Regions from separate parts of the Homo sapiens genome. Here region 2 is linked to region 1. Evidence: fine-mapped expression QTL. Tissue or cell type: breast. Region 1 holds a variant in brackets; the other region holds the start of a gene. All regions are shown on one strand. Distances are from middle to middle.

Evidence for each region. PIP is the estimated chance that this variant, and not a neighbour inherited with it, causes the effect.
Region 2: it holds the start of LHX4, and the variant in region 1 is the best candidate, but not a certain one, in a credible set for the expression of LHX4 in breast (GTEx, PIP 0.76).

The regions. Positions count from the first base shown.
Region 1 is chr1:180,270,655-180,276,020 of GRCh38, forward strand. LHX4 (LIM homeobox 4) reads left to right here. Exons shown (of 6, transcript NM_033343.4): 4 at 726-880; 5 at 1,181-1,352; 6 at 3,531-5,366. The coding sequence ends at 3,925. LHX4-AS1 (LHX4 antisense RNA 1) reads right to left here and starts at 4,027. Exons shown (of 5, transcript NR_037642.1): 1 at 3,997-4,027; 2 at 3,283-3,458; 3 at 2,684-2,744; 4 at 1,959-2,038; 5 at 1-1,317. It also overlaps a transcript of ACBD6 not described here. RefSeq lists an enhancer at 860-1,787. The variant G/T (reference allele first, on the strand shown) is at 2,870.
Region 2 is chr1:180,227,823-180,233,188 of GRCh38, forward strand. LHX4 (LIM homeobox 4) reads left to right here and starts at 2,442. Exons shown (of 6, transcript NM_033343.4): 1 at 2,442-2,783. The coding sequence starts at 2,708. RefSeq lists a silencer at 1,883-2,012.

The sequences.
Region 1 (5,366 bases):
ATTTTGACTACAATCCACAGTAAAACTCATTTTACATTTCATCTCAGTACACATATTTATACAATAAAAACTAAAGTTTAATGAAATGATCTTGCCATTCCATCCCATTCTCTTCATCTGATTTCCTGTTTTAGTTTTGATCCACTAAGGTGACTTTACAGCCCACGAGTGGGTTCTGACCTATAGTTTAGAAACCTGCTTAGACACTGTTGGGTGTGCAAGCTCACCCCTGGCTGTGAGCCCAGCGACGCCAGGGCAAAGGTGACATGGCTGTGGGGAAATGGGAGACTCCTGATGAGACAGAGGGGAGGGCATCTGGGGCGACTTTGAACATGACTTCAACCTGGCTGTTCACCTTCACAGCTCTGGCAAGAACTCATGAGGATGTGTGAGCAGAGTGTTTGTCATGACAGGGACGTGTGGAATTGGGTACATTCAATCTGATGAGACTTCTGTGCAGCTGGGCTGGCAGGGGAGGGTTGAGGCAGGGAGCTGAGCAGAGAAAGGACTGCTGTCCTCACTTTTCAGTGGCTTGGGAAGGCCCGTGGTGCAGGAGTCAGTGCCATGAGAGTGGGGACCTCTCCACTCTGATGTCCCCTGTGCCTCGCGCTGTCCTGCCTACAGCAGGCAGGCTTAGGTGCAGAAAGGATGGAAGGGAGGGTGTGGGAGGAGGCGCAGCTGCTGCAGATAGGCCGAAGCCAGTAAGCAGTGGTTTTTCCTTGCAGATGACTCAGAGGCTGGAGCTAAGCGGCCCCGGACCACCATCACAGCCAAGCAGCTGGAGACATTAAAGAATGCATACAAGAACTCCCCCAAGCCTGCCCGGCACGTGAGGGAGCAGCTGTCCTCAGAGACAGGCCTGGACATGAGGGTCGTACAGGTGAGATGCCAGCACTCCTGTGCCCTCCGGGGATCCCAGGCCCGGGACAGGGGTGGAAGGTATCCTGAGTGACATCAGCTCACGGGTGGTTGGGCTCAGGGCTTGACCCCAGGGCTTTTGCCAGAACTGAAGACAGAGTTCTGAGGCCCACCTGGGGAGAGGGGGTGGGGCGCATCGCACTCCCAGACCTGTGCTCCATTCAGGCTTCAGTCTGCTTCCAGCCGCCCGCCTAGGGGGTCCTGGGGGCTTTGGGTTTGTGGTGGACGCCCCCTGAGTATGTCCCTTGTGCTTGTGTGGCAGGTTTGGTTTCAGAACAGAAGGGCCAAAGAGAAACGCCTGAAGAAGGATGCAGGGCGGCACCGCTGGGGGCAGTTCTATAAGAGCGTCAAGAGGAGCCGGGGCAGCAGCAAGCAGGAGAAGGAGAGCTCTGCAGAGGACTGTGGGGTTAGTGACAGTGAGCTGAGCTTCCGAGGTGAGCAGGGCTGGAGGGGCCAGGCCGAGGCCTTAGGAAAGTCCCCTGGGAATCTGTAATCCCTGGCACTCAGGAGGGATCTTTCTTGAGGCCTTGGCAACTCCCTCCTGAACACAGGCTTTTCCTTAAGACTTGCAGTGAAGGGTGGGGGAAATGGTAGTGGCCCTTTACCATGGGACAGGAGTAGGAAACAAGATTGCTGAGGTCTGGAAGCTGGGATGGGCCAGGCCCCGTCCTGTGGCCCCAAGGTCTCCCCTCCCCTCCTGCTGACTGGGGCCTCCCTCATCAGCCCACACAGCTATGAACAGATGACTGGGTTCCAGCCTTGTGCCCCTAGCCCCTCTCCCATCTTTGTCCCCTTTGCTGGGACACTGGCCTACTCCCATAGTCCCCTAGAGCCACCCCTTCCTCCAGTCCTGGTGGTGGGGAGGTCATGCTCCACAGGTTTTTTCCTGGGAAATCAGTACTGTGAGTGCATGTGAGATGGGGAACTGGCTTCACTTCCGAAATCCCTTTCCCCACCACTCACTTCATTCTGTCCCCTGCACACAAGCTTTGCAGCATGCACTATATTCAAATTCATGCATCAGCAAAATTGTAAATTACTGCATGTTATGAATCCTCAGGTTGTTTGCAAAGAATCATAACTGTTCTCAGGTACTGAGTTCTCAAATGTGGAAGGTCTTCTGCGGAGGGGGAAAGGGAAGAGTACTCAACTGGCGATCAGAGACCTGGTTTCCAGTGCAGCTCTGTCAAATCGATTCACTTCTCTTGAGCCCCAGTATTCCCAAGAGGAATACCATATCTTTGCCCATCTCACTGCGTTGTGGGGATCAATGAACACAACCAACTGTGGATGTGCTTGGGGAAAGCCTGGCACATTTGTATACCTGGAAGGCATGATCGTTCCCACAGGGAGCGTGTGGCTCCCGCAGAGGGCCCTGGTCATTTGGGATGACAGGTATAGGGAAAAGGCTAACTCATGGCCATTTGACAATGGAGTGGAGCCTTCATCTTCCTGCTCCCTTTAAAGAGCATGAGCTCCCCCCACCATGTTTTTTCATAAGGGGAATGGGGGGCAGGCCTCAGAAGGGATGGGGTGTTGAAGTCTAGTCTGGGGAGGCCTTATTTAGGGATTGGTGCAGAGGCCCAGGTGGAAATAGAAAAGGAAGTTTGTGGGACAGAGGATGGAACAAGTTGCCTGCCAGGACAACGATGCCCTGGGAGGACTCTAGTTCAGCCCAGAGGTCAGCTGAGCCCTAGAGGGCAGCCTCCTCTGAGAACACAGGGCCCGTGAGGCCTTGGGGACAGCTCATGGGACTAATACTCACCTTTTAGGCTTCTTGGCAGGATTGGGAAAGTCAATCTCATCTGGGCTGTTGAAGTCAACACCTAGAACATACTGGATTGTTAAGCTCATTTCTGTTGGGTGCAGGTGGGTCCCTGGGCTGACCTATCATTGGTTTCTCTGGGAATAATTTCTCAAAGACTAAAACTGCTCACCTCTGTTGGAGAGA[G/T]AAATTCTTTCAAGTGGCAAAGATTCCATTAGATCCCCTTAATGAAATTCTTTAAGAAAAAAGAAGGTTCATTTGCCTTAATCAAGTCAATTCTTTGTCCCCAGTGAAGAGCTTATTGAATACAGACAGAAACCAAGTCCTTTGATATTGAACCTCTCTTCCAGATAGACCAGAAGGATTTTGTACAGATGTCTAAGAGTGGTCCTCAGCTTCCCTGACCATATGGGCCTGCTTGCTTCCCAATCAACTAAACCAAGCCCTTTCTCAGCTTGAAAGCTTTCAGGGTAAATGTTGTCAGCATGTAGTTTCCATTTGTGATGTGGAGACATCTGACCCACCCAGCCTTAGGCATTCATCCTCCTCAGTGTAGCCAGAGTATTAGTACACGAGCCACAAGGGACCAACGAGCTCACCAAACATTTGTCCATCCTTCTGGGACCTGGGAATTTAGTCTTTGCAGGTGTTTCTTGTTTTTCTCCTTGGCCTGGGTTGGCCTCTGGATATCAGGCTGCCATATTGGTGTGTCTGACCCATGCTTGGCTGCAAGGCAGCTGCCATCCTTGGGCATCTTTCCTGGTCATGTGTGTTCCTAGGTTGTGAAGAGCAGGGGACCATCAGAGTCCTGGCAGCTGACAATAAATCTCCGTTCTTTTGTCCACAGAGGATCAAATTCTCTCAGAACTTGGCCACACCAATAGGATTTATGGCAACGTGGGGGACGTTACAGGCGGACAGTTAATGAATGGGAGCTTCTCCATGGACGGGACAGGACAATCCTATCAGGACTTGAGGGATGGGAGCCCCTATGGAATCCCCCAGTCTCCATCCTCCATATCGTCCCTGCCATCCCACGCTCCTTTGCTCAATGGGCTGGATTACACGGTGGACAGTAATTTGGGCATCATTGCGCATGCAGGGCAGGGAGTAAGCCAGACGCTGAGAGCCATGGCTGGGGGACCCACCTCTGACATCTCCACAGGAAGCAGTGTAGGCTATCCCGACTTTCCAACTAGCCCAGGCTCTTGGCTCGATGAAATGGATCATCCTCCTTTTTAAACTTCTCTCCTCCCCACCCTACCTGCCCCCCTGGCTTGAGAGAATATCTTCAAGGATCAAAAGAGACTTGCCTTTTAAGGATCGAAAGTACGCCAATGTGAATTTCCATTATTTTCAATGGAAGTCCTCCGCTGATTCCTAGAAGGCTGTGAGACCACACTAGGGCATTGTTTCCCTGGGGAAGCAGTGGGAGAGCAGACTCATCTCAGAACACAGCACAGGGGGTAATGGCCTAGAGCTCTAGGGACACTGGCTTGTTGGGTCTCTCCCCTGCTGTTCTGCTTAGGGGCTTGGCTGCTCAGTGCTTTGGTAGCACAAGGTGACTGTGATAGGCCCCCTTGGCCTTTGGGAACTTTGCTCCAACTGGTGTGTCTCACACAATGCCTCCCAAAACACTGCTCTCACCAGAACTGAGACTCCTAAGGTAGAGGCCTCACAGCCCTTGAGTAAAATAAAAGTGATTTCTGGACCATCCTTATTGAACCCTATATTTCAAAATGAAAAGATCAGTTATTAAAGGTCAGTGAACACTTTGATGGCCAGTTTGATATTAAAAACATGCCCCCTCCTTTTTTATTTTTGCTGTGAAGATATGAATTCTTTCCTACAAACCAGAGAATATGAACCTGTTTTGGTTTTTAAGTGTCCCATCTATATCATTGACTCTGATGGCAAGAGGTGGTTTTCATTGCAGGTGACTGAGGCTGAGCTGAGTAGCCCTGGACCACCGCTGCAGATTGCCTGAGTCGTCCCCTTGGTGCACAGTGTGCCTTCTTCAATTGCTTGTATCATTTATTCCACAAGACAGGCTGTGGGCTGTAAAATGAGCAAAACTAAAATGTGGGGAGAACAAAATGACAATCAATCAGTGAACATTTGTAGACACATTTGGATTCCAAACCTGCAGTCTGTTCAGCCATATCGGCTGATGCCAGTCTTCCAGAGTTCCCCATCCCTTGTAGGGTGAAATATTTGGAGTCTGTTTTGAAGGAGTTGGTTTAGATGAGCTTGCAAGTCTACCCCTCTGAAAGCTTTCTCTGCTGTCCTAGCTGACTCAATTGGAGGACAGTTTTGGTCATTTCCAGGAACCAGCAATTTTTTTTTGGCCTACCTTGGTTGGGAAGAGTAATTTAGGGAGCAGCCCTAAAATTGTCCAAAGGGTTCTAAGTGGTTCTTGGGCTGCATCTCTCTGGATTGCTGGCTGGACACCTGCCATGCCTTGGGCTGCAGTCCCATGGTCAGAAAGCCAGAACTCTCTGGCCAGTGGTGGTGCAGGGACTCCCCGTTGTGCAGGTTTGCAGTAGCAAATCACTAAGCCTGAGGCCAGAGCAAGGCCAACCCCCGCTTTACGAGTTGCCACTCCTGCGACAGACTGCACTGCTGTGGGAAACGCTGTCCTGAATGGTGCTGCAGCTCCCACCCACCTTGTGCACCCATCTAC
Region 2 (5,366 bases), 43 kb before region 1:
ACTACATCTTCACAAACATTCTTGATTATTTTCTTTGGATAAATTTCTATAGAGATTGGGTCAAATGCATCACATTTGTAGCCAAAACGTCCTGAGAAGACATTTCCCCTCTTTGCAATCCCCACTAGGAAATTGTTTTCTAATTTCCCCACAGCCTAACCAACAATGGGTATTATCATTGCCCTTACATTTGACTAAGATTTTTACATATTTATAATCCTATGCTATTGCATTGTGCTTTTAAAAAAAATAGTATTTCACAAGCATCCCCATGTTATTGGGTTTCATAATTGGTTTCCATGATTCCATAACATACTACCAAACAATTTAATCTACTTCCCTAAGCCACTTTTCTTTTGTTGGCTATTTAGGTTATTTTTCTCCAAAACATAATACTGTAATAAACATTTTCACGCATGAAACTTTTATAAAAAATTCTAGATTATTTCCGTGGAACAGACATTCAAAAGTACTACATAAACTAAAGGGTATGAAAAATTTATGAGTTTGATACATATTGCCAAATTTCTTTCCAAACGGATGTTAAGAGTTTATAAGCACCCAGCAGTATTGGTGAGTGTCCAAGCCCCTTTCGCCAGTCCTGAACTCTAGGATGCCCCTCCCGCGCGTCGGGCATCTCACAAACAGAAAAAGCTGTGCACGTGTTGTTTTGTCTTGCGTGTTTTTCACTGCAAATGAGGCTGGCGTTTCCCCGTGTTTGCTTACTAGTTATATTTCTATAGAACACATTTTGGTAAACACTAAAAATGTCACTGGGTTCTTTTGCTTTTTTCTTCTTGTGTATATTGTCTCGCGCGCGGAGTCACCTCGCAGGTAAACAAGGGAAGAGATGATGCCAACCCAGTACCAGGACACACAAAAGTCACTGTGACCTCATTGGAGACAAATTCTAAGCAGCGCAGACGACCAGGCCATTCTCCCCCGCCCCATGCTCCTCCCTTAAAGGTGAGCAGGTGTCCCTTGTTTGGAGATGACACCAGGGGAAACAGCAGGGAAGGTTCTGGAAGGCTGGGGAGGGCACACAGTCCCCCTTCCCGCCTAAGCTGAACCCCACTAGGCTGGAAGGACACGTATGTCTGCATTTCTGGAAGGAAATGCCGTGGGGGCTGGGGGCAGGAGAGCGGCTGGGTCTTGGGGCAGACGGGGTGGGCTTCCCGCGCCTGCAGCCCGGAGGCGTCGAGCGCCTGATGGAGCGTCAGAGGAGACCTCGTCCCAGCGTTGGGCCTTCTGTTGTATTTCTGCCAGAAACTCGCGTTGAGGAGAATTTGTTTTAAGCGTTTCTCTACCTGTCCATGCATCTCGTAAATACAGTAAGCATGGCAAGCCCTTTCGCTGGTTAACCCCGGCGTCCGTGTGCTCACTGCCGCCCTGCACGCACGAGGTCGCGGATGGTTCAAAGCACCCGCGGTGGCAGCCGGAGAGGCAGAGCGGGCTCTAGGGACCTAAGACAGGGCCGAGCTGGACGACTGGTGGCAGGGCGGCCGGGGAGGCCCCGCCGCGGGGAGGTTTGGGCCCCCTACCCTGCGGAACTGGAGGCAAGTGCGGACTCCGGCTGCAGGCCGCGGTCTGCGGGGACGCGCGCGGGGGGCCTGCGTCCCGCCACCTCCGCGCACAGCCCCTGGTCCCCTTCCCCAGCCCGGGCCGGCGCCGCCCGCCGCGTGACTCGCGCGTTCCGGGCCGAGTACGGGCTGTCCCTTGGCCCAGCCTCAGCCAGACGCGGGGGAGAGAGAGCAGGGGCTGGGAAGTGCCGGCAGGAAAGGAATTGGCCAGGGGAAAGAGGAGGAGGAAGATAGATGGAGTCATCGGTTACGGAGCGCGCTCCGTCCGGCGGAGCGAAGCCGGGGACCGAGAGCGCGCAAGGCGAAGACACAGCGACGCAGCCCCGTCCCCGGCCTCCGGACCGCCTGCCCCGCTCGGCCCCGGCTCGGCTCCGCCCCGCCCCTGGGTCCGAACGGAGGAGTGAGGAGGACACGAGCCGCGCGGGCTTGGAACCCACGAAGACCCGCAAACCCAGGGCGCCGCCGTCTCCGACCACCTGCTGCCGCGGCAGGCCATCAGCAGAATTTATACCCAGGGCGCGAGCCCGCCACGGCTGGGCGGAGGCGGAGGCGGAGGCGGGGAGGGGGGGGGGGTGCCGGCTTGCGAGGCCCCGCCCCGCTCCCTGCCGCCCCGCCCCCCTCCGCCCCGCCGGCCTCACTCGGGGCGCCGGGACCCCCACTCCCTCCGGGGTCGGCTGCCCGCCGCCGGGTTGGGGGATGTGCCGAAGGGCGGGCCTCCCTGCGGAAAGCGACGTCACGGCCGCTCCTGCAGTGTGAATGAATCAAAACGCCCGGGTGACCGCGGCCTCCCGGGCGGCCGGCACGCGAAGGGTGGAGGGGGAGGGGGAAGGAGCGGGCGGGGGAGGGAAGAGGAAAAAAGCCAGAGCTGCAGCAACAGCGTCTCAACCTGGGATGTGCACCAACCCCGGAGAGCGAGATCAAAGGGACTGGAAACAGACTGGGGACTGGCGGGGGGAGGGGGCCGGCCAGCCTGTGGAGTCCTCCCTGAGAAGCGGAGGGCCCGGCTTCCACCGTGACTCCAGCGGCCTGCTTGGGGTTTTAATTATTATTTTGAAATTTCTGAATCGAGCTAGAGCGAGAGAGCGAGAGATCTCCGTAGACTGCGACTCGCTGGCTTTCGCTCCGAGATGATGCAGAGTGCGACTGTCCCCGCGGAAGGGGCTGTCAAGGGGCTCCCGGAGATGCTAGGTGTGCCGATGCAACGTAAGACACCCCCCTTTCTCGCTGATTTAATTCTAACAAGACAGCTAGCAGCCTCAGCCGCTGCGGGGCGGGCCGGACGCCGCTCAGGGGCCGGGAGGGGCTGGCGGCCGGGGCGCAGAGGCGGTCACAGGGCAGGGGCACCAGCCAGAGTGCGTTTGAGGGGGCCAGGCTCTTGGCTGTTTGGGGCCGAATGTGAACGCCTCCTGGATCATGCTTGAGGCGAGCCGAGTACCGAACCCCGCATCTCCAGCCCAAGGCTTTTCTTGGAACGCTGGGGAGAGTGCTGTTTGGGGACACCCAGGGGTACGAGCTGTAGGCCAGGCCTGAGGGCGAGGGTGGTCCCCACAAATCTTCTTTCGCCGGCGTGACGGTCAGCGCTTGCAGGACCGCTAGTGCAACTTCACCCCAGCTGGCGGGAAGTTGGAGAGCGCGTCTCTCGCCCCTGGGGCTGGCGGCGGAGAAGCCCCGGCCACACTCTTAGTCCCTGCGGCCCGCGCCCCGGGCGTGCGTGCCGGGTGAGTCCCCAGCCGCTACTGCCCGCGGCGCCCGCCGCGTGCGCCGCGGGAAACTGACTGCTCCTTGTGAGGGAATCTGCTCGCGCATTCCAGCTAGCCTAGGAATGCAGGGGAGGGAGAAGCGACCGCAAGTTGTGAATTCCGGGTTCAGCCTTTGCGCACGCGAGGGCAGGTGCTCAGGGTGGCTCGGGTTTGGAGGGGTAGAGACGGGGGTGTGTGGGAGCTTTGCTAGCCTGCCCGCCCGCTTTCTTCCCGCGCCCGAAATTAGCGAGACAGCCGGAGCTCGCGGCGTGTTTATCCCCAAGTCTCTCTCTGTGTGTATGGGTGTGCGCGCGCAGAGATTTTCCCGAAGGGAATCCGTCTCTGTGCTTCACTCCTGAGCGAGAGTCCCCGAGAGGGAATCTGTGCAGAGGCCAGAACAGGTGCCCAGTCGTCGCGCGCGCGCGCGCGCGCGCGCGACAAGCGCCGGGAGAGTCCTGCCCCTGTGGCTTGCACGCTCAGCAGGGCGCCCCGGGCACCCTGGAGAGACCAAGGAGTTCCTCGCTCCGCTTGCCAAGGGGTTGTACTTCCGCCTGCGACTTCTTTAGTGGTGCGGTAGCTACATCTTCGGGGTTTACTTTAAGTAAGGGCCGGCTCATCCAGGGATGGTGACTACCTACAAACTAGGGCGCACGAGCGCGCCCTCCTGCGCCTCGGGTTTCCATGGCAGGGTTTCTGTCCGGCGATCCTTCGGAGGGCAGGCGTACCGTAGGCTTCCCTGGGAAGTTTTTGAGAAGGGACTAGAAAAGAATAGCTTCATCCAAGCCTATTTAGATTGTTTCTTGGCTGTATTCTACAGTTATTCTTTGAGTGTTTTCGTGTCAACTGCCGGCAATCAGTTCCACGTCTGTGTTGAGCCTTGGGGAGTTTACCGCTAAGATGTTTTCATAGAAGGCATTGGAGATTCACTACGCCCCACACCCCGCACACAGGCAGGGACAGAGTGGGTTCTCAGCCCCTGCAAAGACGGAAACAGAAACCCTGCAAAGGTGCACCGAGTCCTTAAGCTGCTTGTAGCTCTGCGCGAGTGAGGAGACTGCATGAGTGGGGGAAGGGTGTGTGTGTGTTACTAGTGTCCTTGGTACCCAGTACGTCTGTGCTTTCATGGCTGTGGTCCGTAGGTGACCTGTCTGTTGGGACCCCAATGAAGGACGATGGTCTCTGCTCTGACGGCCTTTCTTGTGATGAGTGACACTCTGATTGTCTCACTTTTTGCCTTCCCTGTTCAGAGACAACTTTGATGTTCGACGTCAGGGAGTCGCTTTGCTAAAATGCCCAGAACTCACCTTCAGAGCTACAGTTTGCCAAGGCTGAGTCTAGGTTCACACTGTGGAAAACTTGAGGTGTACAAAGGAACTTCCACACCCACCCCCCCAGGGTGGCCCAGGGAGGCAATGTCTAATCTAGAGGGGGTGGTCAGTCCTCCCTTTGTCCGAGTTTCGTGACCTTGGTTGGAGGAGGCATCGGCCAAAATTGAGGGGCCCACTCCCTGAAGACTTCTGGATCCAGCTTTTATTTCCTCTTGGAATGTGAATGGATTGTAGCCTCCCTTGCAGCACATCTGGCCTCTGGCTGTTAGGCTGTTGGTGCTGGGACCGCGGGATAGGTCCCCATCACCCACATATACACAACTATTAGTTTTCTTGGGACTGGGCCCAGTGGCCTAAGAAGGGGGGAAGCTCGAGGGGTTGTGGGGCACACCCTTGGGCCTTCCGGGACAGTAGGCTCTTAAACCCTAGAGGAGGGGAGACAAAAGAAACGCTCTCCCACAGGGGTCCCTCCAGTCGCCAACTAGAAGGGTTTCCCTCTCAACACAGACATGTTTGCCTCTTCATCACATGGAGTCACCACGAATGGAGCACTTGGGGACGCAGGTCTAGGTGTCCCCAAGCTCGGTGCCTCTAGTGCCCTCCCCTCTAGGGGCATTTTAGAAGAAGTGATTTAAATCCAGCTTATTTCGGCGGCAGCTGGACTATTCCTTTGCTTATTTGGGGATGGGTGAGGGGCATACCCTTTAGGAAAACGTTTC